Regions from separate parts of the Homo sapiens genome. Here regions 2 and 3 are each linked to region 1. The links come from fine-mapping of genetic effects on gene expression. A gene starts in region 1. Each other region holds a variant in brackets. All regions are shown on one strand. Distances are between the middles of the regions. Region 1 holds the start of FAM163B (family with sequence similarity 163 member B). Region 2 holds the start of DBH-AS1 (DBH antisense RNA 1). Region 3 holds the start of DBH (dopamine beta-hydroxylase).

Region 1 (9,692 bases):
AGTATATAAAATGAACACACACAAAAAATAAAACCTGTGGATGGCCTACATGACTGTTTACTGATATGGGTCCAGGTAAATCAATGACAGACTAGGGTGTCGACATGCAGACACAACCAAGACCTGTTAAGTCAAAAGGACAGGGAACAACACACACAGACTGGTCTCTCGGTGGTGCCCAGTGTGGCTGACACACACGTCACTGACACAGCCGAGCACTGGGGGGCAGGCCACACCCAGGAAACCGGGGGCTTTTACTTTGTAAAAAACCAGCCAACCAACCAACCAACAAAAGCTGAATAGCTTGGTTTTTCTCTTACTGCAAGCATGTATTTCTTTTATTCAAACACCCTTTAATATATGAAGTTAAATATATAAGGAGCATGAAGGAGACAGTCACCCTTGCTTTATGCAAATAGAACCTCTTTTCTGCCGTGGTGGGCGGTGAGTCTCAAACTCCACGGAACACAGGAATCACCTGGGGGCCGGTTACAACAGGTCTGGGGGCCTGGGAACCTGCATTTCTCACGGGTTCCTAGGGATGCTGCTGCTGCTGCTGCTGGTCCCCGAACCCCATCTGGAGTAGCACGATTTCAGATTGATGTCTATAAGGTAGTGCAGCCAGATACAGCAAATGCAAATTAGGATGATTTCAAAAGAGAGAGGACGGTTCTCCAGAGACCCGGGACCTGCCAGCAGGCCCAGCTCCCAGACAGGGCCAGCCTGTTGCACACAGAAACTGTGGACCTCCTCGTGAGGAACGGAGATGGAGGTGGCGATGATCCTGCCTGTGTGTGAACACTGAGGTCAGGAGCCAAGGCTGCCCCACGATGTGGGGTTTGCCTGCTTGCCAGGTGCAGACCGAGGCCTGTGGGCCCCGAGGCCACCTTACGGCAGAGCCAGGAAGTGAGCACGGGTCGGGGCTGCGTGGGGTGGAGCTGGCCTGGAAGAGGTTTTCGCTAGGGCTCTTCTCCCAGTCTGCTGGCTGGGAGGTAAGCTGGCACATCAGAGGCGGATGTAATGATTGCCATTTTATGAATGAAGAACCTGGGGCCCAGAGAGGCTGAGTAACCTCACGAGGGACGCATAGCTTGGATGGAAACACGGCTCTGCTGAGCTACAGAAGCTGTGCTCTTGTCCACTCAGCCACACTGCCACCCTCAGTAGCCAGGGAATGTGGTGGACGAGGTGGCAGCCCTGGGAGCCTGGTTTGTTTTGGGGTCTCTGTCCCAGTCCCTGCCCAGCCTCCACCGGAGCTCCCTAGCTGGTGCAGCCTTCTTCCACCTCTGCCACCTGGGAAAACTGAGCTCAAGGGCAGAGGTGACTAGCTCGGTCCGGCAGGGACCCACTCCCACAGGCACGGACGGCTCCCCGAGGGCTGAGAGCGCCCAGAGCACAGGCGGTAACATCCAGCCCAGTGGGATGATGGCTCTGACACTGAGCTGCTGCTGAAACAACAGTCCTCCCCCAGGGCCCCGGGGCCGCAACCTCACTGCCTACGTGCGGCCCATCCCGAGCGTCCGGCGCTGCCTGAGCCTGACTTAAGGGAGTGGTATAGGAGTGACATTTGGGCAGTCTCAGGCCGTCTCCCATCACCCCAACACAAACATCCAGCCCTCAACATGCTTGTCACTTGCCCTCTTCTTACCACCCTGGTCCAGGCCTCCATCATTTCCCTTCCTCCCCAGCTTCCTGCCTGCAGGGCCCCCTCTCCAAGTCATTCCCCATGGTGCAGCCAGAGAGGGTCCCTAAAGGGCAGAGCGAACCATGTCCCTCCGGGCTCCCAGAGCCTGGTTCCTGTGGACTGCGGCGGAAAGCCCAACCACTGAGCAGGGCTTACAAGCCTGGCGGAACCGGACCCCACCTGACTCTCCAGCCTCCTCCTTCACTGATGAGGCCCGAGGGAAGGAGGAGGCACAGTCTCCATTTTCCAGCCCAAGACCTTCAGGCCCAGGGTTCCACAGCCAGAAAGCAGCAAAGCTGGGCTTTCAACTCTACCTCCACCAGCCCACTTCACCCCAGGGGCAACAGGATTCCTTCCCCTCTCCAGCAACCCCCAGCAAGCGGGGATTGGGCCAAGGCCTGCGGGAGGATTCAGCAACGGAGGGAGGGAGCTGGCAAACACTGAGGCCTCGGAACTCATCAAATCCCCTCTGGAGCAGATCCAGAAAGACTGAGACACTGCAAGAAGTACCAGTGCCAAGTGTGGCAGCAGCTGGCAGAGAAGCCCCCCAGCCCCACCCTGGCCTCTGTAGGGTGGTCCCCAGGACCACATGCTCTTGGCATCCAAAAGCCTTTTGGCCAGGCTCACGGTTGCCCCGGTGTCCCATGTGCCAGCAGGGAAGGCAGGAGCACCCTCATTTTTGCAGATGGGGATGCGGAATGATGCACCCGTGGTCTGGCCTGGAAACCACTCTCTCTGCCACACAAATTGCCATTTTACCAACACACAGATCAGGACTTGCTACTCTGAAGAGGGAAGTGGCGGTAGGGCCAGGAGCGGAGTGGAGGACAGAACAAGGGCTCGGCTGCTGCTCTGCCTCCCCTCCTGCCCCGAGAGTTTAGAGTCAGAGGTAATTGACTGAGATGTAATACATCTCTCCCCTCCCGAGTGCTGTAATTATTCCTCGCTGGAGCCCGCTGCCATGAGGCTGCAGAGGCAGGCCCACGTGGCAGGAGCCAGAGGTCTCACTGCAGGAGTGGGTCTCCATGCTGTGAAGCCTCACCCAGAACCAGCACCAGAAAAGTCAGGAATATAGAGCCAGCCCCTAAATATACAAAACGGGGGTGATCATGTGAGTAGGGAGTAGGGTTGGCACGGACTGGGGGCTTGGACTCAGGTCAGTCCGAAGATTTCAAAACTGCTCTGCACTCCCTCAATACCATGGCAAAAAGGGAGGAACTGCACTCCTCCCAGCTTTCCTACTCCATCCGGGGCTTAGATGAACAGAGCTGTAATGGCTCAGAGGGGGGACATGAAATGATCCACCCCACAATTTTGTACATGGGAGACTGAGGTCTAGAGAGGAAAGTGACTTGCCCAAGGTCACCCAAAAAGGTGGACAGAACTCGAGTCCCGACTTCTCCATCTGTGCCCACCTTTCCCCAGGTGCCCTTGCTCATGTTTGCTGATGGTACTGGCATGACAGACGTGTGTTGGGGACTCCAGCCTCAAGGGTAGGAGGAGCTCTGTGGGGCTCCTTGCCCTACCTGCTGGAGAGGCGAGGGTGGAGAAGCTGCAACACCTCTGTGTGCCAGGATTCTGAGTGGTGTCAGCACGTCCTGAGAGTCCAGCAATGCACCCTGGAGCTCCCACTCCCTCCCCATGCAAGTGGGGCACTGAGGCTGGGAGAGCCTGTGCATCCTTCCCAGACCCCCAGATCCTTCGGGAGCCATTTCCAAGCTTTCCGGCTGAGTCTAGACAAGCCGGCCCCATTGGAAACTCAGCTGATAGGGAAACCAAAACCCAGCTGGATCCAGGATACAAAGACTGCCCTGTGGGTCTTTTCATAGCATCGTGCAGATGCTCAACAAACTGCCAGCAAGTGCAAGACCGAATGAACAAAACCCCACATTTCCTGGGCCCCCGAGCCTTAGGGTGAGATTTTTTCACAAGCTGCCAGCACCTAAGCTGTTTAGGAAGCTTGCAGTCAGTGCACCAAGAGTTAAAACCAGCCCTTGCCCAGCCCAGGAAGTGCTGGTTCTCACCTGCTCAGGTGGGTAGAGCCCTGGTCACCTCCACTTCACTCTCAATTCTATAAGAGGGAGAAGGTGGGAAGATGGGCAAAGGTGCTTTCCCAGCAACCCTGAACTTTTTGGGGGTTGGTAATTACTGCTCTCCCCAGAAGCCCTGAAGAGCGTGAGTTGGCAGGGGCTGAGGGAAATGCAAGGGAGAAGGCTGGCAGGGTGGCCCGCTGGCTCTCCTGAGCTCCTGCTTACTGGGGAAGGTGCTAGGACGAATGCTGGGGCTCAGGCCTCAAGGATACTCCCCTTACCCTGCAGAAGGTTCCATGAACTTGACCCTTGAGTTTCTTGTCTCAGAGCCATCGGGGTTGCTACGGGACACACACTGGCAGGACCACTTGTGCCCAGGCAGTCCGTGGCTGCGGGAGGACAGGACACGAGTGGGGTGAGACAGTGGAGCCCTGAGGACCCATGTTGAATATCTCTTGGGTTTTTGGTGTGTAGAGTCTTTTCTTTTCTGGCTGAGGAAACCTAGTGTCAGTTAGGCAACCCCCCACCTGTCAATGAAGCAGAGATTCCTAACAGACAAAGGTGTGAGGTGGTGGTGACAGAGGCCGGCGTGTTTGAGGCCATCTCCACCACTTCCCCACTCTGTGATCGTGGGCAAGAGACCAAACCTCTCGGAGACTCAGTTTCTGCATCTGTGAAATGGGGCCAATGCCCCTTTCTCGTGGGTGTTGGGTGAATGGGATGGGATGAAAATGCAGCACCGACTCTGGAAGAAGGCAAAGCTCAGCAAATGAAAAAGTCTTAGCTCCTGGCAGGGAGAGAAGGCGGCCAGGTTTCCAGAGGGCTCTTCTGGGAAACTTTCCCTCCCCACTGCCCCCTGCCCCCAGGCCACTGTTCCGAGGGAAATGAAGCCCCCCTTCCTAAAGTGGGTCCCCCACCTCTCCCTTAGGCCCTCGTGCCCACCTGGGTCTCAGTCTCCTCCTCGGGGATGCGCTTTGAGGGTGGAAGCCAGGGGATGGGTGACGCCAGCTGGGTCAGGGGACCTGGTGCGAGGCAGCCGGGGCAGGCTGCAGTGGGCACTCTGGACGAGTGGGCACCTAGCTGGAGCTTTCCAGCCTGCGTCTTCTGCCCCACACCCCGTGACCCGCGGCCCGCTCGGCCCTTACCTTGAAGCATGGGAACCGCGCTGCCCCGGCCGCGAGGACTTGGGCGCACGTGACGGGGCGGGCGGGCGTCCGACCCGGGCAGGGCGCAGCTAGCGGCGGCCGCTCATGCCCAGGCCACGGCGGTGGCGCCTGGTGTGGCTGGGCGGGCGAGGCGGGCGCTGAGAAGCCCGGGAGGCCCCCGGGGAGGCGACTGCGTGCCCAGGCGGGCACCCCTGCCAGCTCCGCGCTGCGGCCGCGACTCCGGACGCCCCGGCTGGCTCCCTGCGAGCTGCACGCGCGGCTCCAGCCTGGTCCCGAGCGCAGGGCGCGCGCTGGCGGGGAGGGCGCGCGCCCGAGCCTGGCGGGGAGCGCGCGTCACCGGCCCGCGCGCGCAGTCGTCGGGGGATGCCGGGAGCGGCCTGGGGAGCTGTCCCTGGTGCTGACGGCTCGTCCGCTCTCGCCCGGGACGCGCGACCTCCTGGAGGCCTGGGGGTGCCCCCACCCTGGCCGGCGCCCTGCGGTGCTCCCTCCGCTCTCCGCCTGTTCTCGGGGCGTTCCGGCTTCCACAACGTTGGGATCTGGAGTCAGGCCGAAGCTGCTGCTTATCCGCAGTAGGGCAAGTCCCTTATCCTGGTTGAGCGGCTGGTTCTTATCTTTAAAATGGGGAGTTAACACCAGCACCTTTAGGGTTGGTCTGAGAATGAAATCCGATGATGTTTCGAGGCCCGGCACACCATAAGTACTTAATAAATGCTCGCCTTTGTTACTATTTATTTCCCTTCTCTGAGTTAGCAACCCCGGAGCAACTGAGAGGAGGAGCAAGGCTTACGCTGCTCCTGGTGAGTGGCTGTTTGGGGCATGGCGGCTGCCTTTGGATCTCTCCCACATCCACGGGGAAGGGGAGCAGATCCCTTCTCCCTGACCCCAAAGCACAGAGCTAAGACCAATGGCTAGACGTTAAAGCAAGGCAGATTTGGGCTGGATACGAGGGAGACCTTTCTGACCCAAGGCTCCTACTCCTGAGAGGAGTGCCCCAGGAGGCATTTCCCTGTTTCTGCAGGTCCTCGAGCTGAGCCTGCGGTCGCAGGGACCCTGAACGGAGAGAAATCTGGTGTTAAGAATGTTAGGAAGGCTTTTGTGTTAGAACATGTACAGCACTCAGAGCTGTGCCTGGTGGGAAAGCACCATATAAATGTGTGCTTTTTTTTTTTTTTTTTTTTTTTTTTTGAGCCATATCACTCTGTCACCCGGGCTGGAGTGCAGTGGCGTGATCTCAGCTCACTGCAACCTCCACTTCCTGGGTTCAAGTGATTCTCCTGCCTCAGCCTCCCGAGTAGCTGGGACTACAGGCATGCGTCACGACACCCAGGTTGTTCTTTTTGTATTTTTAGTAGAGACGGAGTTTTGTCATGTTGGCCAGGCTGGTCTCGAACTCCTGACCTCAAGTGATCTGCCCGCCTCGGCCTCCCAAAGTGTTGGGATTACAGGTGTGAGCTGCCACGCCTGGCCTTAAATGTGTGCTTTCATTATGATCAACCTTTAAGTTCTCTATAAAAAAACTCCATCCTGGTAGTAACCATAACCTTGCTTCATTCTAGACATGAGAATACTGAGGACAAACAGAAGAGTAAAGTGCTTGGAGTCCATTTCCCTTTTACAGATGGGCTGAGCACAGATGGGTGAGCAACTTGCCCATGGACAAGAGAGTGAGTGTTCACACCATACAGACATGCTCCAAATGTCCAGCCTGCTGCCTCCCCTGCTGGGGCCCCTGGCAAGGGCCCCTGCTGAGTTTCTCCAGGCTGATCAGGTCACTTTGACCATAGAGAGTTTTCTTATAGCAAACCAGGCTAGTCCTCCTTCCTCTTAACTAATGGGAAAAGCTGGTCCCTGCCCCCTGTGAGTATCTTGTTCTCTTCCAAGCAGGATAATTAAACATCACCTGCTTCATTTCCCAAGGGACCAGGGGCTGTGTTTGATTCATTAATTAACTGCGAGTAGTACCTGCTCCCACCAGGCACTTGTCTCATGATAAACATCACTCATTATGTGCTTAATGCGTGCTAGACACAAGGCTAAACACAGTGCGAGCATTGCCTCATTTAGTCTTCTCAGCGATCCGATGAGATATGGATACTGTCATTACCCTGACTTTGCAGGTGAAAACTTTAGGCTCAACAGCAGCAGACCTGAGGCGGATCGGCCTGATTCCCAAGCCATTGCTCCTAATCCCCTTCTTCTAGAACTTCTACATCCTTCCCAACCAGCCCCACCTAGAAAGAAGGATGGTAAACACGGATAGAAATTCCTTATAAGGAGAGAGAGAGAAAGGCAGAAAGAGAGAGAGCCAGGAGGAAGAGACAAACCAGCCAGCCAATCGATGTCCTAGGAGTTGACACAGGAATCCTTTAAATCATCACTTTTAGTCAAAAACTCCATTATGACAACTGAGCAACTTGTTTTTTATTTGAGAGTTGCAAGTGTGTGCCAAGAATTTTAAAAGCAACATCACTGCCAAGCCCTGTCTTTACCAACCAGCTCAATGCCCTTCCACTTCTCCCCATGCTGACTTTTTACTCAAACTCTGCAGAATCCTGCAGCTATAGATCTGAGCAGCTGGAAACCTCTGTGGAACCAGCTCAGACTCTGTAGCTCTTGGCCTCTTGACATGCTGGTTTCTTTCCCATGCTGTGGAGAGAGATGTGTTCCTGATGCCCGTGATGACGAAACCTTATTTAAAATGGAGCCCATTTTATTTGAAAGAGGTCTGAATATTACCCACAATATGTACAGTAGATGCCTGCATTGCCCTCGCTTTACAGATGGTAACAAAGGGGTGAAGTGACTTGGCCAAGGTCACACAGCCAGCAAAGAGGTGACTACACTGAATAGATTTCATTTGGATCGCAATGCCAGATGGTCACCACCAAACTCATTATTTATGTGCAAAAGCATGCCCTGATTTTAAGCAAAAACCAATTTCAGAAAATAAAAATGGGTGAGGGGAGAGAAAGACAAGGAAGAGTCTCTGGTCTGACTTTATAAAAACAATTCATCATCAGGATTCCCTAAATAGCAAGTTCTCCTGGTGCGTGCAAAAAAAAGGATCCTAGTTACACGCAGTTCTTTTAGGTTGGCCAAAAACAGGCCCGGGGGTGGGAGGAGTGACATTCTGCCGCCGGACTGGTTCTCCATCCACTACAATAAGCTGTTTAGTCGCGTGGCAACCTCAGCCAACGGCAGCTACTCTGTCCCCACCACCAGCATCATTCCACAACAGAGCTTCGTGGATATAACTCAAATTCAACAGATGGCCAAGTTGGTTGAACACCTCCCAACACATTGGTTCATGGGTGGCAGTTTACAAAGGTTCATTTTCCACTTAGGGCAAATGGGGCTTGCGTAAGATCAGCCTGACACTATACAAGCAGGACCTCTGTGCGCATCCGTTTCTTGGAGTCGAGTTGGATAGCCTCATTGCTCAAAGACTTACAGCCTCATGAAGAAGAGGCATCAGGCTTTCTTTCTCTCTGAGGATCTATATGTGCACAAGAGGTGCTCATTGGCTGGATATAGAGGAAAAAACAAAACCAGCGGTGGCGGGGAAACCCTGACATTCCAATCACACCTGCACCCCCATGCACAGTCCCCTGCACACTCGAATGGAGGGAACGACGTTCTTGGGAACAAAGGATGTGAGCAGCTGCTGTTGATGGCTGAGTCTCATTCTACAGAGGCAGAAAGAACAAAGTGCTCGAGGAATAAAGTTTCTGCCAGGATGTGGAGAGTAATGAGAATGATGGCCAAGAGCTTCTCCTATTCCCTTTCTGGGAACCCTCTGGAAGGGAGGAGCTCGCCATCTCCAGACATGTCTGAGCAGAGGCTGGCTGTCCACTTGCAGCACAGCTGGCACCCGGGGACCCCTCGGTGTTAGAAGTCTGTGAGATTCCAGAAGGGGCAGCTGCTCACTGGTCTGTGTGGGTGCCCCCTGGCCCCCAGCACCGACCTCCATTCAGCTGCTCGATGGATCTCAGGGCACTGAAAGGGGGTCCACGTCCGGTTTTCCAAGCTCCTCCTCATATTGGTGCCAGGCCAAACTATTGAAGTGGTTGCTGTTTCCACATATTTATGGAAATTACCTGGGCCTTGCCGCAGTTACTAGATTAACCTTTGTTTGGTCGTTGAATTGTTTCCTCTTCTTAGCCTGCAGCCATAAGACGTTCTGCAGTTGATTGACTGAGCCCAGCAACAGCCCCTTTGATCCGTTTTCACTGAACCTGTGTCCACTCAACTCCAGATGATCTGTGCAGGTCAAGATCAAGCCCATTTAGAGAAGAGATGAACTTTTTAAAAAGAAACTATTGAGAGATGGGTAACTGCAAGTCACTGTGATTACTCTGTGATGCCGAATAGGCAGAGTGTGCCTCGCATCCTGGGTCTGTTAGATTGGACGTCTTTTAGATGGGACCAGGAGAATGACGAGGTACCAAAGTGTGCAAGAGAAGGTGAGAGGGTCGGGCAGCAGAGTGTGCCAGCGGACAGAGTGGGAGGCGTGCGCGGGCTCAGGTGTGCAGCGTGTGGGGTGTTTCCATTGCCCTGGTTTGAAAAGACAGCCTCATCTGTGTGAAAAGAAATTACCGGTGGTTTTTAATTACTGCAACATTTTAAAACATTGTGACAGCAAGCTTGATGTGTTCGTTCTTTAAGAATCATCGCAGATGATGGATGAGGAGGAGATGGGGCTGAGAGGCGCTCGGGGACCCGTCAAGGGGTCTCTCCCGGCTCCCTCTGTGAATCACGGATCATCTTGACAAATCCTGCTGCAGAGTGAGAAGAAGTGAGACAGGAGTTATG
Region 2 (9,692 bases), 47 kb after region 1:
CTCCCTCCGGGATCCACATCTTCGCCTCTCAGCTCCACACACACCTGACTGGGAGAAAGGTGGTCACAGTGCTGGTCCGGGACGGCCGGGAGTGGGAGATCGTGAACCAGGACAATCACTACAGCCCTCACTTCCAGGTAGGAACCTGCACCCCACCCCTGCCCCGCCCCCACACCCTGCCACCACACGACCTCCTGGGTCTACTGTTTCCTGACACCATAGGGATGGCTCCAGGCTGGCTTCTTTTTCCTGGGCCAGCCCCACCCGCCCCCCACCCATGTGGCCTGTGCTCCCCACTTGGGTGTCTGGTGTCTGATCGTAGGGAGGCCTCTGGCACATGGCAGATGGTGGTGGGATTCGGGAGACCCAGGCGGCCCTCTGGGAACATCAATCTTGGTCTTGGATAACCACCTTCTGGTTTGAATCTAATGCCCTCCCTGGCCAGAAGCCACACTTAGCGGGCTCTGGCTTCCACTGTAGAGGCTGGGGCAAAATGGACACCCCCAGAGGTCAGGGAGGCCTGAGGGAGGACACAGTGGCCGGGGGTCTGGTCTGCAGCTCTCTGAGGTCTCCTCTCCCCCACCCCTCGGCTCTGCCTGCCCCAGGAGATCCGCATGTTGAAGAAGGTCGTGTCGGTCCATCCGGTGAGTGCCCAGCGGGAAGGCTGTCCCACTCACTGCCACCAGCTGGGGTGGCTGAGAGGGCTGGGGGTGCCACCAGAAGGAGAGGGACACAGAAAGTGATAGGGGGAGGGAGAGCCATCCAGGGCAGGGGGAGGGTGCCTGTGGGTGGCTCTGGGCTGGGCTACCTCATGGGGAGACTCACTCAGGAGTTCATGGAGAGACGTTGGAAAGAGTGGAGCAGACAGGACACTCCCAGGGGACGCGTGTCCTCAGTCTGATGGGCCGACCACAAACCCGAGAGTGTTTGGGGGAGATGAGGGCACTAAGGCAGGCAGTGGAGCCCTGATCCCACAGAGGGCCAAGCCCAGGCCTCGGTGGGGACTTGCCCAAGTCCTTTGAGATGTGTCATGGCCCACCAGCTGCACCCCCACTGGCCTGGGCCCTGGCCCTGTTGTGACCCACTGGGTCACAGGAGCTGATGGTTTATAACTTGCTCGGGAACACTCAGCCTGTGACCTTCGCACATGAATCTGCTGGGCTCCTTGTAGTGGACGACAGGGACTGTACCCCAGAGGTGCCGTGGCATGCACAGTGGCGTGGTCCTATGGGGGCGAGGCCTCCAGCACCTGCCAACGCCAGGTGGCAGGTGCTGATGGTCACATTGGCTTTTCCTCAGGGAGATGTGCTCATCACCTCCTGCACGTACAACACAGAAGACCGGGAGCTGGCCACAGTGGTAAGTCACCCCCGCTTCCCCCTGCACCTGCCCAGGGCGAGTGTTCAGCCTGAGCCATCTGAGGAAGGATGACAGGTCTTGACTCCTCACTTAGGGCATGGGCTCGTCCCCTCAATAAGCCAGTCGTTCTCAGCTCCCTGAACCACAGTGGCAGCATCACCAGGGAGCTTGGGATGAATGCAACCTCCTGGGTGCCACCCCAGGCCCACTGAGTCAGAGACACAGGCGGTGGCATCGGGCAATCCATGTTTTAACAAGCTCCCAGCGGATGTTGACCCCTGCTCAAGGTTGAGAAGCACTCACACCAAGAAGCTTCTCAGCACCCGGGGCTGGTGTGGGGAGAAGCTGTAGGACAAGAGGTTGACCTTTGCCCCGTGGAGCTCAAGGTGCACCAGGGAGACAGGCCTGGAGCACCTGCTGCTAACAACAAGCAAAATTACAAAACAAAACTTTAAAAACCAGGTTGAGGAGGCAGAGGTGCGGGGACCTGGGAGGGCCTTGTCAGAAATGTGGCTGTCACATGGAGCCCAGGGGAGAGGGGAGGAGGTGAAGGAAGGCTCTGTGCAGGGGCTGCGTGCGGGAAGGCCCAGAGGACCAAGAACATTCTCAGGATGGAAAGGAGAGGAGGAGAGGGTGGAGACATGGGTGGGGGTCAGGCAGGATGAGCGTCAGCTGAGGATGCATTTTGGCTGGACTGCAGACAGTTCAAGGAGAATCTGCACTGGAGAGATCTATTTTCAAGGCTGGGTATGCAGGCAGCACCAGGACACGGGCAGCCACGTGATGCATCACGCAGCGGGGCTGCTTCCGGGAGCCAAAGGGGATGCTGTTCACAATTACCTGGGTCCCAGGCACAAGCCAGGGCTGTCCTGGCAAATGGGCCACCTTGCCAGTGGATCCGTGCCAGCTGCTTCGGTAACCATGGTGGTCTCCAATAATTATCCTGTGAATTGTGTGGCTCAAGTGGAGCAGACCTGGGTTACAGCTACCCTGACATCCCTCAGCGCCAGGAACTCAGGTCCATGTCACAGCCCTATTCTTTGTGTTTTAATCCAATGTGGATTCACCTGATGTTTACTGAGCCCAGACTGCCAGTGGTTTATTTTATTTTATTTTATATTTTATTTTTTTTTGAGACGGAGTCTCGCTCTGTCACCCAGGCTGTGTGTTCTCAGCTTGCTGCAACCTCCACCTCCCGAGTTCAACCGATTCTCCTGCCTCAGCCTCCTGAATAGCTGGGACTACAGGCACCCACCACCACGCCTGGCTAATTTTTGTATTTTTAGTAGAGATGGATTTTCACCATGTTGGCCAGGCTGGTCTCAAACTCCTCATGTAATCCCTCATGCTGGGATTACAGGCATGAGCCATAGCACCCAGCCAGTGTTTGTATTTTCACAGGTGAGACATAAAGGCTCAGAGAGGGCAGGCACTTGACCAAAGTCACACAGCTGATAGATGGCTGAGCTGGGATTTGACCCAGGGTCTTGTGCCTCACAGCTGTTACCCCACCCTTCCTGTCTCCCTTGGATTTCAGGTGACAAGTGTCCTAGGTTCCTGATCACAAACTCAGGGTGGAGACAGGACAGCTTTGTCAGTCCTTTATTCTCTCTAGAGGAGGTGCTCAGTATATCACAGCAGTGGCTGATGTCGGGTGCTTGCCACAGCTCAGCACTGCTCTAATAACTCATCCTAACCACACCAAGCCTTGCTGAGACCTCTGAGCAATCCCACCAGGAGATACAGTGAGGTCCAGCCACTCAGGCCACACAGCGAACAGGAGGCAGGGCTGGTATGGGTGCAGGTGCCAACCCCGACTGTGCCGCCTCTCGGCTAAGCACCTGTGCAGTGACTGAGTGGGCTCGCAAACAGAGGGCTCTGCAGGTGGAGCACCCCAGGCAAGTCCCCACCATCAGCCCCATTCTGCAGGCGCGGCCCCGGGGCCAGGGATGGGAGGGTCTTGCCGGGCATCCAGCGAGGAGACTGCATATTCCCTGCCCAATCTGGCTTCACGGCGGCGGAACTGACGCCACGTCCCAGGGCGTTCGGGGCTGCCAGGCCTGGTGAGCACCGCGGACATCTCAGATGGCCGTTCTGCAGGTTGAGGCCCTCGGTGCCAGCGTCCCCGTGGGCAGTTCTGTGGCTTCCCTGGCCCATGTCGTCCTCTTGGCAGTGGCCACATCACAGCACCAGGTGGGATCAAAGGGGAGGGCAGCTCCCCAGGTGGACCTGAGCTTCTCACACTCTGACAAGCCCTCGCCTGCTGATCCAAGACACAGTGGCCTTTGAAATTCGATTTCCTTCCCCAGGTGAAAGAGGAGAACAGATTCTACACAGGGTCGGACTCAGTTCCCTTTTGATGTCTGTGGTGGCAGAGGGTGGGGAGGGACAGGAACTCACACAGGAGGGCAATCGTCCCGATCTGACGGGGGCGGGATGGATGAGAAAAGCTGGGAAAGGAGGAATCCGGCCCAGAGAACAATGCTGGCAAAAACGCGTCCTGGCCAACAGGTGCCAGGTTTCGTCTCTGGGCAGAACTG[T/C]CCCATGCTCTTTGTCTGCACGGGAGGAGGGGGCGGCAGCTGGTGTAAGTGCCACGCCAAGCTTTGCCCAGTCCCTTTGTTCTGCCATAGAGTAAAGATTGCCTTTCTTCCCCACCAGCCAGATGAAATCCCCAGGCCCACAGCAGCTTCACAAACAGCGGGGAGCCTGGAGGGGCAAGGGTGGCCAGGGCGTCATGTCCCGGCCCCTGACCTGCTGGGATCTGAGCTGCTGCCGGGGGAGCTTTGCTCTCTCCAGCCCCAGCTCCTCCAAGCTGCTGCTGTTCTTCCTCCTATGGCTGAGGCTCCACGGTCACCAGCTCCAAGAGCAGCAACCCAGCGAGGGGCTTAAAGCTGGCAGTGGGGACTCAGAGGGTGCCTGCCCTGCCCCTCCCATGCGATGGCAGGCCGTAGGGTTGCCGTGAGAGGCTGGAGGTTGTCGCGGCCTCTAGTCACGGTCCTGTCTTATAGAGTCCCTGCTCCCCTCAGAGCCACGTTGGAGAAATGACTGGTGGACGGTGCGGGGCTGCAGTGGAAAGGGCCTCCCTTGCAGTCCTTGGCTCCAGGCTCTCGCTGGAGGTCATGGGGACAGCTTCCAGACAATGGCCGGGACGCTGGGTGCACTCAGGCTGTGCCACCGATGCTGTGGCCACCACGGGGCATCCCCTTGCCTGCTCTGAGACTCAGTTTCTGTACCCATAAAATGGGCACAATAACACCCCATCCGCTTGTCCCGTTTCATTTTTCCTCACAGCATCATCAGTACCTGATACGAATTTCCTGGTTGACTCACTCACTCACTGCCTGTCTCTCCTGCCAATGGTGGCAATTCCTTGAGGGCAGGGACTCGGTTCCCCAGAGCATGCCTGGCACGGTGCAGTGAACAGACGAGTGGACGCAGTGTACACGTGGGTGCGGCGAAAGCTGCTGGATGGCAGCGTCTGCGTGGCATGGCCCGGGGCTGACGGGTCTCCTCCAACTTGCAGGGGGGCTTCGGGATCCTGGAGGAGATGTGTGTCAACTACGTGCACTACTACCCCCAGACGCAGCTGGAGCTCTGCAAGAGCGCTGTGGACGCCGGCTTCCTGCAGAAGTACTTCCACCTCATCAACAGGTGAGGGCTCCCTGCACAAGCTCCCTGCCCCCAGGGAACCCCGACACAGAACCTCGGGCCTGTTAGGCGGCTGGGCAGATTGGAGGAGTCCAGGCTAAGTTCTAGGAGCAGAGACCTGTGGCGGCATCACTCACCCCTCCCCTCACTCGTTTCCTGCTGAGTCTGGATTTGGCTTCAGAGCCTCCTCAACCCAGCCTGCAGCAGCCATTACCCACCCGCCAAGGTGACAGGAGAGGTGAGGCCGTTGCCGGTGAAGGCAGCATCTGGGGTGGCCTGGCGGAGGCAGCGGGGCTGGGGAGGAGGTGGCAGGACGGTTGCCCCAGGGACAGGACTCGAGTTGCAGGGAGGTGTTGCTGGTGCCCACTGGGCTCCCTGCCCGTCAGCTGCTCCCCAGCCTGGCTGTTCCTTGTCCCCACCAGGTTCAACAACGAGGATGTCTGCACCTGCCCTCAGGCGTCCGTGTCTCAGCAGTTCACCTCTGTTCCCTGGAACTCCTTCAACCGCGACGTACTGAAGGCCCTGTACAGCTTCGCGCCCATCTCCATGCACTGCAACAAGTCCTCAGCCGTCCGCTTCCAGGTGCGCTGCCATGGGCCCGGGTGGGGCATGCAGTCAGGCAGGCCTCATGGGGGGCCCCAGTGAGGGGTGATGGGTCTGCACTCCAAACTGCTGGCAAAAGCACTCGCACAAGACAATGAGAGCAAGTGCCAGGTGGTGACACATAGGCCTAGACAGCCAGCCAGCCAGCAGAGAGAGAGGAGAGAGGAGAGAGAGGAGAGAGAGGAGAGAGAGGAGAGAGAGGAGAGAGGGAGAGGGAGAGAGGGAGAGGGAGAGAGGAGAGAGAGAGGAGAGAGAGAGAGAGAGAGAGGGAGAGAGAGAGAACCAATAACGAGGCAAGGAAGGGAGGGCAGGCACCCTCTCTGGTGACACCTCCACACTGTACCGAATGCCAAATGCAGGTGGTGTGAGCAGGGCGCACTAACCTGCCTAAAAATAAAGCACCAGGGGAGGGGAAGGTAAGAAACGAACCAGTCTGAAGCTGCGAGCTGGTTTTTTCCTCCTTATCTGAGACCCACTGGTATTCGAAGGCATCTAATTTATCCTGGGCCCACTGGGCTGTGGTCAGGAGGCCAGGGCCTATGCAGAGTTAGTCGCGTAAGGTGCCGCAGCCTGGAGATCCAGGAAGATCCTTCCCAGAAGCATTTGGGAGCCAGATTAACTGCTAAGTCAAACATCCTCAGCACCAAGGGAAGGAAGGGCTAATACTGGCTTGCTGAGAATAGTGTGGGGTGGACGTCTGATGGGGTTGAAAACTTGGCATTTGGTGTAGCCTTGAGGGGAAGAGATAGCTAAAAAATATCAGAGCCTGCAGCCAGGGGCTCTGGTTGCTACACTAGGGTGAATGATTAAATTGGGTGGGGACAGAGGCGGGGAGAGGCCTGGATGACTCCCAGGTTCCTGACTAGGTGAATGGGAAGCCAGGGGAGGGGGCATTTACTGAGGTGAGGACCCCCAAAAAGCAACTTGGGGGAGCAGAGTGAGTTCAGTTTGAGACAAGCTGAGTTTGAGGGCAAGAATCCAAGAGGTGGCTGGGAAGTGGCTGGGGAAGCAGCCACCCATCTTGCCCCTCCAGCCTCAGTTTACCTCCTGCCCCCTTCCTTGCAGGGTGAATGGAACCTGCAGCCCCTGCCCAAGGTCATCTCCACACTGGAAGAGCCCACCCCACAGTGCCCCACCAGCCAGGGCCGAAGCCCTGCTGGCCCCACCGTTGTCAGCATTGGTGGGGGCAAAGGCTGAGGGGGGACCTACTCCTCCCCCTCCTCCATGCTGTCCCTGTGGGCTCACACCGGCACTGTGCACTCTACTCTGCGACGATCCCCATGGAACAGCCCTGCACGCCCAGGATGAAGGGGCCAGACCACGCCCCTGCCTGAGACCACGGTCCAATCCAGCCTTCTTCCCCCAGGGTCCCCTGCATGGCTGAGAGGGTGTGGGTGCCCTGTTGACCTACCCTGGACCGAGTGGACCACGACCTCGTCCATTTAAACCCGGCTGACTCAGTGCAGGGACAGCCTGCACAGTGGTCCAGGGTCCAGCCCTCCGCCAGCCCTGTTCCGCCTCACTGGGTGTGGCCTGGCTTCTGGGACAGGCACCATGCTGGGCCGGGGTGTGGAATCACCGGGAACGCCCCCGCCCCCGCCCCGCTGCTCCCGGTGTGCAGCGGGTGCGGGTGCCGCTTAAACATTTCCCTGCTGAGTGGCTCGTGTTTCACAGTGGGCGGCTTCCCTGCGACGGAGGCAGGACCAGGCATTTAGCTAGTTAGAGACTCGCCTGGGAAATTGCTCCATTCCTGAGTAAACAGATATTTTCGCCCACCTAAAGGGAAGCCCTGACAACAACTATCACCAAAAGACGAGGCGGCAAAGATCCAGCGGGGCTTCTGGGCGCCGGTTCCACGTGGGGTGGAATTATTAGCACCAGCTTGCTTCTCTGCCGGTGGGGCCAGCGCTGAACAGACCGGGGTGGAGTCAGGGCTGTGCTTTCCGCGTGGTTCTGCCACTTAGGGAGTGTGCCTTGGGCGGGCCATTTCACATTCCTGACCCTCACTTTTCTCATCTGTAAAACCAGGCTGATGCCGTGCGGGCTAATGAGCCAATAAAGCTCACACTTGGGCTGGCACCCACTGGAGGTGGGTATGTTTGCACTCCGGGCCGTCGCTCCAGGAGAGAGAAGCTTGCTCCTGAGCCTCCTCCCTGTGCCAGGCGTGGTACCAAGTGCTTCCCCCTGAGCGTCCTGAAGCTGCCTCAGCTGGCCTGGGTGGGTCTCCCCTTCCTGCCCTCTGAGCTGCCTCTCAGGGACAAGTTCAGCTCTTTGATGGTTTCTGGAGACAGTAACAGATGCACTTGTGTTCAGCCACTTCAGCAAAACGCTGCCCAGCCTCATGGGGAGAGAGGGAGATGGATGGGCCTCGGAGTCCCCTCGCATCAGCTAAGCGGCTGCTGCTTCTGCAAGGCACTTCACTTCATCACAGAAGGGAAGTCACGAGCCCAGGAGCTCTGCCTCACGTTGTATAAATCACAGCTTCTTGTGGTCCATAAGTCACGGCGCTAGCGCTGTGAAATGCCAGGCCCCAGCCTGGAGAGCCACTCCGGCCCTCTGTCATCTTTACAGCCTAGGTGACAGTAGACACGGAGCAGGCCCAAGAAGCCTCTTCCCGCGATCACACCCAATTGCCAGCCCAGAGAAGGGTCCCAGGGTCCTGCCCAAACACCTGGGGGGCACTTGTAGCCTGCCGATCTCGGGCAGGGAAACTGAGACTCCCAGATAAGTACCTCACCTGGGGCCCAAGAGCGGCAGTGATTGGGAATCCTAGCCAGCTCTGGAACCTGCCACAGCGACAACCCCACCCCCACCTCACCCCCCACTCACACTCTTGCTCTCAGGCTGGTTATCCTCTTCCTCTTGCAGAGACAGCAGCCGTGTCCCCCCTACCCCGCTCCAGCAGTACCCGCACCTCCTACACCCAGATAAGCGTAACCCCGTGGTTGCTGAGAGTTGCCACTTGCCCCACACTGAGGCTATGCACAGCCGTGGCAATCTCGTGAAGCCATGTAGTTTCTGTTTCCATTGATGGAGGAGGAAACTGAGGCTCAGAGACCTAAAGTTAGGTGCCAAGGTCACCCAGAGTAAGCCGGGGAGCTCGAAGTGTCCCCAGGTCTGACTCCAGTGTCTGAATGCTCAACCTCTGCTTACTTAGGAAACAGGAATTTCCCCAGGACCCTTGTGGGGGATTTTATCTAAAATAAGTTCCTTATTTAGAGGCTTAGGGGAAGTGCTTTGTTACCTGAAAATGACCTACATGCCCCAAGCCAAAGGGACTCTGGGCTCGCCCACCTTCCGAATGATTGGGGTGTGAGTCCAGCAGCCCAGGTTGCTATTCCTGCCCCTGCTGTGTGACCCTGAGTTAGTTACTTTCCTTCCCTAGGCTTGGGTCTCCCTATCTGCCCACCGAGGAGAGGGTTCCCCAGCCTCCCAGGGGGCAGGGACTGCTAGGGTGGCACAACCCCCCATCTGTGAGGTGCTCAGAGCCCTGGGGTGAGGAATGCTCATGCCCATCAGTGTTGAGAGAAGTGGGGCGACCCCAGGCTCCAGCCAGCATAGGGGTGCCTGCCCGACTGGGTCCCAGAGCACACCAGGGCTGTGCTTTCTGGTGGCTGCTAGCCTCATGTGGCTACTTACGATTAATTTTAAATTAATTAAAATGATACAAGGTCGGGTGCTGTGGCTCATGCCTGTAATCCCAGCACTTTGGGAGGCTGAGATGCGAGGATCACTTGAGCCCAGGAGTTCAAGACCAGCCTGGGCAACATAGTGAAATCCTGTCTCTACAAAAAATACAATAATTAGGGCTGGGCGCGGTGGCTCACGCCTGTAATCCCAGCATTTTGGGAGACTGAGGCGGGCGGATCACCTGAGGTCGGTAGTTCGAGACCAGCCTGGCCAATATGGTGAAACCCCGTCTCTACTAAAAATACAAAAATTAGCCAGGCTGTGGTGGTGCGCGTTTGTAATCCTAGCTATTTGGGAGGCTGAGGTGGGAGAATTGCTTGACCTGGGAGGTGGAGGTTGTAGTGAGCTGAGATCACACCACTGTACTCCAGCTTGGGCAACAGAGTAAAACC
Region 3 (9,561 bases), 26 kb after region 1:
CCGGCTTCTTCACCCTTGATGTGACAGTTTTGGGGTGCATTCCACAGTCTCTCCAGGGTCCCCTTGGAACTGAGTCCCTACTGCCCATGGAGGAAACTGATTATGAAAGTACGGTTCGTGAGTGTTCCCACTCCCCTGCCCACCCGTCTCCGCACACTCTGAGCTCTCCTTCCACACAGCCTGCTCACATCCAGACCCTTGCCTCAGCGTCTGCTTTTGGGAGAACCAAAACCATAACAGGACAAAAAGAAGGGAACACAGTCTCCGACTGCACTTGGGGGTCCCACCAGAGTGTGACGGTGCCAGCAGACACTAGGAGAGGAGGGCGCTTGTATTTCCTGTGGCCACTGTAACAAATGACCAAAAACTCTGAGGCTTAAAACAACACGATTTTTTTTTTTTACAGTTCTGGAGGTCAGAAGCTCTAAAATCAAGGTGTCTGCAGAGCTGGCTCCTTTTGGGGGCTCTGGGAGGGGAATCTGTTCCCACCTTTTCCAGCTACCAGAGGCCTCCACATCCCTTGGCTCATGGCCCCTGCTCCGTCTTGGAAGCAGCCTCCTCTCCTTGGACCCCATCAATGCATCTCCTTCTCTCTCTCGTAGGACCTTTGTGATGACATGGGGTCCACCCAGCCAATCCAAGACCACCTCCCACCTCCGGGTCCTTAATCTAATCACACTGAATGTCCCTTCCCCAGGTAGCCTACCCGACTTGCAGGGATCTGGACGTGGCCATTGGGGGACATCCCTCTGTCTGTCACACCACACGCCAGAAGCTCAGAGAGATTCCAGGGAGGGAGGCGGATTCTCATGTTCTCCGAGACCCTCCTGGGCCAGAGCCCTGCCTGTTGGACCCTGTGATGTCAGTGGGTGCAGCAGCCCCCGAGATGGATGCGGGTGAGGGCAGCCCGGGGCTGTCTCGCTAGCCCTCACTGCATCGGCCCCATTCTGGGTCAATGGTAGGTCAACCTGGTGGATCTCTGAGGTGACCAAGCTTACTGACAGATGAACTACAGCCTCAGGAAGAGGGTCATGGCTGGCAGGAGCCAGCGGGGGGCAAGACCAGCAGCCCTGAGTGCTGGTGCAGGCCACGCAGGGCCCAGCCTCTGTAGCCAGAAGTCAGCGCCAGTGCCGGTCCTGAGCAAGATGGCCATTTCACAGATGAGGAAAGAAGGCTCAGGGCTGTGGGGACTGTCCGGGTGGGTCACATGGCCGGCAGGTTTCAGGGCCTCTCTTTCCATCTGGTGCCCACAGTTACGCTGTGGCTTGGGTGTGGTCTGGAGCTACTGCCTCAGGACCCACCACCATCCTGGCAGTGTGGTCCCTTCAGAAAAGCTGAAAATGCAAAAATCAGGCACATGCACCTCCCCCCATGAGCTGCTCAAGAGAGAGGAGCAGTCACGCATCCTTATGGAGAAAAGGAGAAGCAGGACCCAGAAAGGGTTTCCCTGTAAGATTCCTCAGGGCCCAGCAGGCCTCAGCCCCAAGATTGAGGCCAAATTATTGGAGGGGTGTGTGTGTGTGTGTGTGTGTGTAAAACTGAGTATGTGAGCATGAGCCCAGAGCTGGGGGTGCAGGCCACGCAGGTGTGAGAGTCCACCTCCCCATCTCGCTGACCCCTGTGTATGGAGGAGAGATGGAGGCGGGGGAGGCTGTGTCCTGCCCAGGCCAGCCGCCTGCCAGTGACAGTGGAGGACTTGCTCACAGTGGGGCTGCTTGGGGTCACACAGGAGTGGCCTGGCAGGCCTGGCAGCCCCAGCCCTGGAGCCAGCCACAGACTCCTGGGTTCTGCTTCCCTGGGAGCTTCCAGGGGAGTGTCACTGGGGCTCACGATACCGACCCCTTCTGGGATCAGTGGCCCCTTGCTTTTGGCACAGAGCTTCAGGGCCAGAGGGTGCCTCTAATCCAGTAGCTGAGGAAAGCTTTCAGTGGTGCTCTGGGCACCTCTGTGACCTGCCCTGGGCCCAGTCCTCATGCTGATCCCACTGTAGCCACCCTACTCAGTGCCCCAGGCCCTGGACACCTCAGGCCATGGGATATCCCAAGCATTCAAACTCTCACGGCCACCTACGCTTATGAGCAGAGGCAGAGGCATGGTGCCACCGCTGCCTCCTCAGGCAGGATATGCTTTTTGTTTGTTTGTTTTGAGACAGGGTTGTTCGCTGTCATTCAGGCTGGAGTGCAGTGGTGTAGTCAGGGCTCATTGCAGCCTCAAACTCCTGGGCTCAAGCGATCCTCCCGCCTCAGCCTCCCGAGTAGCTGGGACTACAGTCTTGTGCCACTATGCCTGGCTAATTTGTTTTTATTTTTATTTTGGTAGAGACTGGGTCATGCTATGTTCCCCAGGCTGGTCTCGAACTCCTGGGTTCAAGCAATCCTCCCGTCTTTGCCTCCTAAAGTCCTGGGATTATAGAGGTATGAGTCACTGTGCCCAGCCCAGAATGTGCCTCTTAACTTTCATACCGCAGCCCCTATGCTCAGGACGAGGAGGGACATAGGCCAGCTGCCCCAAGTTCCCCAAGGGGACTGTGCCACCCTGGAGTGGGCTCTGTGATGGACAGAGTCACCGTCTCCCAGCAGCTCCCAATCCATCCCATCACAAGTCAGGTCTAGGCACTGCCATCAGACTGATAGTTGAATTTTTCCTGCCAAGAGGAGGTCCCTAAGAGCCTGAGCCACAGGCGAGGGACAGTGCTGTCCTGTGGCCAGGCCCCGTTGTCACTGGGGAGTGGCCTGGCCTGTTCACTCACCCAGCTCCAGTCTGCACCACCGTCGCTCCACTTGGGGTTGTCACTGCCTGAGGTTAGGACGTCAGCAGAAGCCAGCCTCATGTGGCAGAGGCGATGGGGAATTACAGCCTGCAAAGGCTGATGGCATCAGAGAGATTCAGGAAAGCAAAGGGCTTATTAAAAAGCTGAAATTGGTTCTAAACAAGGTCAGCCGTCGATGCGCCTTGGAGGGAAGCCAGGCGCTGAGCAGCAGGAATGGGGCTTATTTCCTGACACCGTGGCCGTGACACCCTGCACCTCCCCGGCCTACCCCACCCCCAACCCCACTCCCACCCCCATTCCCATCCCCACCCCCACCGCCACCTCTGGAGGGCAACGTGCACCCAGACACTGGAGCAGAGGCAGCAGGGGTGGGAGCAGGGAGGAAAGCCCCCCGCGGGGCACCACAGGGAGGCATGTGGCCAAGAGAGCACCTGGCAAGCAGGTGTCACCTCTGAGGAGGGTGAGGGCAGGAGGAGAGCTGACTGTTGCTTCCTTACCCTGGGGTCGGATTGCTCCCTTTTAAAATCCATTAATGCAAGGAAGGGCGCAGCCACGGGGCCATCCGATTGGATTCGCTCCCTCCCGCCCGGCCCCAGTCTCCGCAGATTTTCTCTGCGGTTGCATTTTTCATTTGAGCGTCCCTTCCTCTTGACTCCAGTGGAATTTTTCTGACCTTGGCTGACAAGGTGTGCAGCCCCCTCCAGCTCAGGGCACCCTCTTTGGGGTGCTTGCCCCAGGCACTGGCCCACCCTGTGAGCTCAGGCGCATTGTCTCGCCTCTCCGAGGCTGACTCTCCTGTGTCTGAGACAGGGATGATCGCACACCCAGCCACCCAAGGCTGGCCAGGATGGAGGCAGGGCAGGGGAAGCCCTGGTGCGGCCTGACTTGTGTCTCCTGTCCCTCCCTAGGACTTAGTTATCAGTATTTTGGAATCAGCTGAATCATTTCTGTCAAATGCTAGAGGAAAGCCAGTTTTGAGTTGGATAAAGAAAATGTCTTTGATTCCTGTTAAAAATAAACATGTGTGCATAACACTGCTGAGCACGAGACCGCACCTGCCGTCCCTCCTTAGAGCTCCCAGCAGCTGTTGGTCTTTGGCGTATCCGGGAGAGGAGCGAGGCCTGGAGGTGTGTTGAGCCGTCCAAGGGCTGGTAGCATCAGGGGCTCTTCACTGCCTCTCGCTCCACAGAACCGCTGGGTTGAAGGAAGCTGGAGGGATCAATTGTCCTTGTCATCCAACTTCCTGTGTCTGTAGATGGGGAGGAGGCGCTGGGTTGGAAAGCGCTTCTCTGAGGACGCCAGCTGCGCATTCAGGAGGGCGGAGCAGGATATGACCCCAGAGCTCTGACCCCGGAGGAGCAGGAGGGGTGCCTGGGGCCTCAATACCCCAGAGGGGAGAGAGGTGCCCCCCTTCCCACAACGCGGGCCCCAGCTGGTGCTCGTTTAGCCTGTTGTCTAGCTGGAGCCACCTGGGTGGCCACCAGGCTGCTGGGAGGGCTCACCCCTGAGCTGGGTGTGCTGTGGAGCCCGTGACCCTCACCTCTGCCTCTGCTGGCTTTTGTTATCCCGTGCTGGGAACACCAGTGCCTGCCCACCCCGGAGGCTCTTCGTATCACCGGCTCGCTGTGGCCGCTCCCCAGTCCCGAGAGTGAATGTCCGGGATGCAGCAGACACCTGCTTACAAGGCACAGGTGAGGAGGTTTTGGAACTAATCTGAGGCATGAAGGTGAGGTGCTCTCAGGCGACGGAGGTGGCATGTCCTGATGGGAAAGCCAGGCCTTCGGAGGCTGAGACCCTTCCCAAGGCTCACCAGAGAACTCCCAAGAGTGTCTTTCCCCTGGCCTGGGAGACAATTTCACACCAATGCCACACTCTATTGCACAGGTGATTATGCACTTGGACCTCACCTGCCTGGGCTGTGGGTGGGGGCGAACGGTGCCCCTCTGGGTGCAATCAGTGGGGAGGGGCTCATGGCCTGAGCTTGGCTTTGCAGGATGGCCTGGCCACTGTGGGGCAGAGAGCACTGCCTGCGAGGGCCAGGGGAAGGCTGGCACTTTCTCCAAATTTCACGTTCGTGCAAAGACACAGTCATTCCTTTCTACAGCGTAGAGCTCAGAGCTGAAGCAGCCTCCAGACCTGCTGTCATGGGTATTTAAGGACCTAAATGTTGCTGTCAGCCTATGACATGAATGTGCCCCTAAGGCTAGATTCTGGGTTTCTCCAGAGAGACGAGAAACAGGAGGGAAAAGGAAGGAAGGGAGGGAGGAGGCTGGGGAGGAGGGACAGCTTCTAGTCCAGCTGGAGAGATCTGTCAACCCAGCCTGGGGGGTGGAGCTGGAGGGATCAAGCAGAATGTCCTGAAGGCAGCTGCCCTCAGTCTACTTG[T/C]GGGAGAGGACAGGAGGGAGAGGTGCCGTGGTGAGACTGACCCTCGGGCCCACGGGTGGATGATGGCAAAGGTCCTGTGGCAGGTGTGGGAGAAGCAGGGCTGCGGCCAGCTGCCCTGAGAGGCTTCAAATTCAGGCCAGATCTGCTCTGGGCAAGAGGAAGCTGTGGGTTTGGGAGCTTCAGAGACAGGGGAGCAGGCCTGTCACTCACCCTCTTTTCCTTAAAGGCTGTCACCCCCAGCAGTGCACCCTGCAGCCTGCCTATCCCCTGTGCAGCTCCAGCTCCGTCTGTCCCCAGCAATGCACCCCACGCCCATGTCCCCCACTCCCTATGATGCTCTCGCGCCTTCTGGAGCAGCAGTGGTACCAGCTGGAGGCTGTGGAAAAATTGAGAGGAGACAAAAGTGGGAAGAGCAGGCCGTGGAGAGAGTGTCTAAACACAGGGACTATTTGGAGATTGTCTTATTTTTGGTTTGAAATGGGCCCACCTGCTAGTATTGTACAAACGGCTCTGCTCGCTAGGCCAGGCCTGCAGTGGCTACGGGCCTATCCTTCACTGGTCAGCCTGGAGCAGCTCCTCGGACCTCAGTCTGCTCATCCGTGGGTAGAGGCGACGCAGACCCCATCCCACTGGGGACTGGGCCAGACAGCCTGTGAGGCAGTCAGCTGGTGCCTGGCCAGAGGGTGTCTGAAAGGCCTCTTGGCTGCAGGGTGCATCTGCTTTTGGGACAGCTCTTCAGAGCCATCTCAGAAGGGACAGCATCCGCCTGTCTACTTCAACTCCCACTGATGACGTCCATGTGTCATTAGTGCCAATTAGAGGAGGGCAGCAGGCTGAGTGCTTGGCCTGGGGCGCAAGCTTGTGGGAGGGAAAATTGGATTCCCCGCTAGACAAATGTGATTACCCGTGCTGCCTGGACCCACCCCATTCAGGACCAGGGCATAAATGGCCAGGTGGGACCAGAGAGCTCACCCCAGCCATGCCCGCCCTCAGTCGCTGGGCCAGCCTGCCCGGCCCCAGCATGCGGGAGGCAGCCTTCATGTACAGCACAGCAGTGGCCATCTTCCTGGTCATCCTGGTGGCCGCACTGCAGGGCTCGGCTCCCCGTGAGAGCCCCCTCCCCTATCACATCCCCCTGGACCCGGAGGGGTCCCTGGAGCTCTCATGGAATGTCAGCTACACCCAGGAGGCCATCCATTTCCAGCTCCTGGTGCGGAGGCTCAAGGCTGGCGTCCTGTTTGGGATGTCCGACCGTGGCGAGCTTGAGAACGCAGATCTCGTGGTGCTCTGGACCGATGGGGACACTGCCTATTTTGCGGTGAGTCTCTCCTCCCTGCCAGCTCTCCAAACCCTTCCTGACCCGGCACCCCATCTGGCCGTCTTTCTGCACTCACCCTCCTTAACCCAGAAAGTTCTTCTGTCACCTGTCAGTGTTTGAGTTGACTCTGCTCTGAGCCAAGTCTGCACCCCGAGCTTGGGCATCATGGGGATCTCAGTTTGAGGACAAAATAGGAAAGACATGCTTTCCATGGTCCTTGACTGCCCGCCCCAAATCATGGGACCCAGTAATCCCAAGGAATGGAACTATACACAGAGGACGCACACACCACACACACTCGTGCCGCTCCACACCCCACACGCGCATGAGCACAGACCCCACGACCCTCGGCCCTGTAAACAATGCCTAGTACCACGTCCCCAGAGCACACATGCCCACTGATGTGGGCCAGGTGGTGGCGCGTGGCTGGGCACAGCATGAGGCCTGCACACCCATGGGATCCAGCCTGACCTACTGTGCTTGTACCCGTGGACCAACTGAGCAGGTGCAGACACCCTGCCCCTACCCATAGGTGTTGAACAAGCCCCACAGGGCTCAGCCAAAACTGTTAGGATGGGCTCTTGACTCCTTTCCGTCCAAATTTACCTCCACTCTTGTTTCACAGGGTGGAGAAAGGGGAAAAGTTTCCCTTCAAACTGGAGGGGACTTTAGGCCCTTCCACAAGCTGCAGGGGGTCCCCGAAGTGGGCGAGCCCACCGCCTACAATGGGTCCTGCTCCAGCCTTCCTTTCCACATGGGACTGGCCACCAGGGCTTCTTTGTGGATGAAACCCAACTCTCTCCACAGAAACACACAAAGGAGTGACAAAAAAGTTTTATTTCTGAAGTCAGGAGGTGCCTGCTTTATCTGGGAGTGCCGAGCTGGAGCGGGGGAGCTGTGTCTGTGCGGAGCGGCCGGCTCCAGCTCTGCATCTTGGTCTCACCATGGGCTGGTGGGGCGGAGAGTCCCTCTCTGCCTTTTTGGGTGTTGTGAATTCATGAGGGCAGATGGTGGCTGCTGTTTCTGGAGCTGAGCTTGCCCCCTCCAATTCCCAAGACTCGGCCAGGAGGCACTTGCCTGTGTCGCTAGTGAGGCTTAGGGCCACCCAGGTAGGGTGAGTGGAGCTGCCTGGGAAGGGCCCTGCTCTGACCCATAGGGCTGCACAGATTCCTGTGCACAAAGACACTCTGTGGCTCAGGTTCCAGCCAAGAAAGACCTGGGACAGCCCTGATTCTGAGCCGTCAGCCGTCTGGAGGAGCAGCTGAACCCCATCGCTGACAGTTTGGGGTTCTTCGCAAGCCTCTGCCATGAGGCACCCTGAGTGCAGGAGCATTTGCTCCTCTCTGGGGCAGCGTCCCCCCTGCCTGCATTTCCCGGCTGCTAGGGAAGCCAGAGGAAGCCAGGTGACTTTGCCTTTCCGTGCACTGGCAAGGTTAATTTGCACAACAAATTCCTACGAAAGCAAATGTCAGCCTTATTATTCCTCCCTAAGCAATATGTTCAACTAATATCTTCTTGATTTCCAGCTGAAATATCACAGGCGAACTTTCTGCCTCTGTTTAAAATGAGTCTCTCGGCAAACCAGCGGTGTCCCCAGCGGGGTTGCATTGTGTGGCTTTTTTCTCTAGGGAAAGTTTTGCAGTATCTTTTGCAGATTTCTTTTTTCTCAAGGAAATGAAGAAAAGATGTTTTACCCTGAATGTAAGATTAAAAAGAAACACAACCCAAAGTCCTTAAGGCCAAGGGCCCGAGGCTTTCTTGGGGTTTCCATGGGAAAGGCCAGGCAGGGCAGGGAAGCAGCTTCGTTTGGACAATTCTGGTGGGCTCTGGGTGGCTGGGGTGGTCTCTAGTTGCCTGGTTCCTGGCCCTAGGGTGTTTTAGGGTTGGGGCAATATTGGCCTGGGGTGTGAGAGTCAGGTGGAGGAGGTAGCTAGGGATATGGGCTTGGTGTGGGTCGGAATGTTAGGAATATGATTCTCACACACGTGTGAATGTTGGAGGGCAGGACAGGTGTAAACAACTCTGACCATCTGTTTGAGCCTTCAATCAATTAATAGATGCCAAATAGACAAATATGGAATCTAAGAAGGGCCCTTCTTGAGTACGAAGGGCAGCCTGCTTGTTGGGGAAGGCTCCTCGCTGTCTCTCAGTGGGTCTCCCTGGTGGTCTTCCATGTGACCTGGCCTCGGGCCACCGTGTCCCTGCCCCTTAGGGCCCAGTGCAAGGGGAGCGGCCGGAGACGGGGAGGGCAGAGGTCACTGATCCAGATCCCAGGAAGCATCCTCGGAGAATGCAGCAGGTCCAATGCCTCCCTGGGCCTCAGTTTACCTTCTCCAAGCAGGGCTGGGACTAAGGTGAGGGGAACAATGCCTAGGCTGCAGGGTTTAAAGTGGTGCTTCAGGCTGGGTGTGGTGGCTCATGCCTGTAATTCCAGCACTTTGGGAGGGCAAGGCAGGAGGACCGCTTGAGGCCAGGAGTTCAGGACCAGCCTAGGCAACATAGCGAGACCCTATCTCAAAAAAAAAAAAAAAAAAATCCAAAATTACATGTATTTATAAAGTAATAAAGCAGTGCTTGTTCTCAGGGTTGTGCCAGTGCAGGGTGGGCACCTGCTATCAATCACCATCTTAGATGTGGCACCCTGGTTTCTCTCTCCTTTCCTGTTCATGTCCCACCCTGTTCCCAACTCTCCCCTTTCTGAGGCTCCGCAACTCTCCTGCCTGCATGAATGTGGGCAGCATTGGTCTGAGGCATTGTTCCCAGTCTTGAGGAGGCCTTGGGAGCCTCAGGCATCTTCTTAAGAAGCTCAGTGTCCCGCCCGCCAGGCCCGGGAATGCCCATGGCTAACAGAACCTGTGACCTGCTGGCAAGTGACAGCCCTGGTTCCTGGCTGCAGAGGAGGAACCAACTCCACTGTCGGGGCTCATCTCCACTGTCTCCAGGCAGAAATGGAGATAGAAGGTGTGAGTGAAGCCACAGCCCCAGGCAGAACCCTCAGATCCACAGGGACTGAGGCCCAGCATCCCCAGATCAGCTGGCAATGAATGCGGAGCTCTGCCGGGGAATGCCCTCTTCCCCTGTGGATTGG

What was found. PIP is the estimated chance that this variant, and not a neighbour inherited with it, causes the effect.
Region 2: its variant is fine-mapped to the expression of FAM163B in cerebellum (GTEx, PIP above 0.99). The same link has a PIP of 0.9 or more in cerebellar hemisphere.
Region 3: its variant is fine-mapped to the expression of FAM163B in liver (GTEx, PIP above 0.99).

The regions. Positions count from the first base shown.
Region 1 is chr9:133,604,218-133,613,909 of GRCh38, forward strand. It overlaps FAM163B (family with sequence similarity 163 member B), which reads right to left and starts at 5,172. Exons shown (of 3, transcript NM_001080515.3): 1 at 4,860-5,172.
Region 2 is chr9:133,651,641-133,661,332 of GRCh38, forward strand. DBH (dopamine beta-hydroxylase) reads left to right here. Exons shown (of 12, transcript NM_000787.4): 7 at 1-137; 8 at 606-644; 9 at 1,300-1,359; 10 at 4,883-5,010; 11 at 5,430-5,589; 12 at 6,676-7,689. The coding sequence ends at 6,807. It overlaps DBH-AS1 (DBH antisense RNA 1), which reads right to left and starts at 5,768. Exons shown (of 2, transcript NR_102735.1): 1 at 5,487-5,768; 2 at 2,947-4,897. It also overlaps a transcript of SARDH not described here. RefSeq lists an enhancer at 2,843-3,642. The variant T/C (reference allele first, on the strand shown) is at 3,900.
Region 3 is chr9:133,630,238-133,639,798 of GRCh38, forward strand. DBH (dopamine beta-hydroxylase) reads left to right here and starts at 6,126. Exons shown (of 12, transcript NM_000787.4): 1 at 6,126-6,473. The coding sequence starts at 6,135. RefSeq lists an enhancer at 7,391-8,126. The variant T/C (reference allele first, on the strand shown) is at 5,156.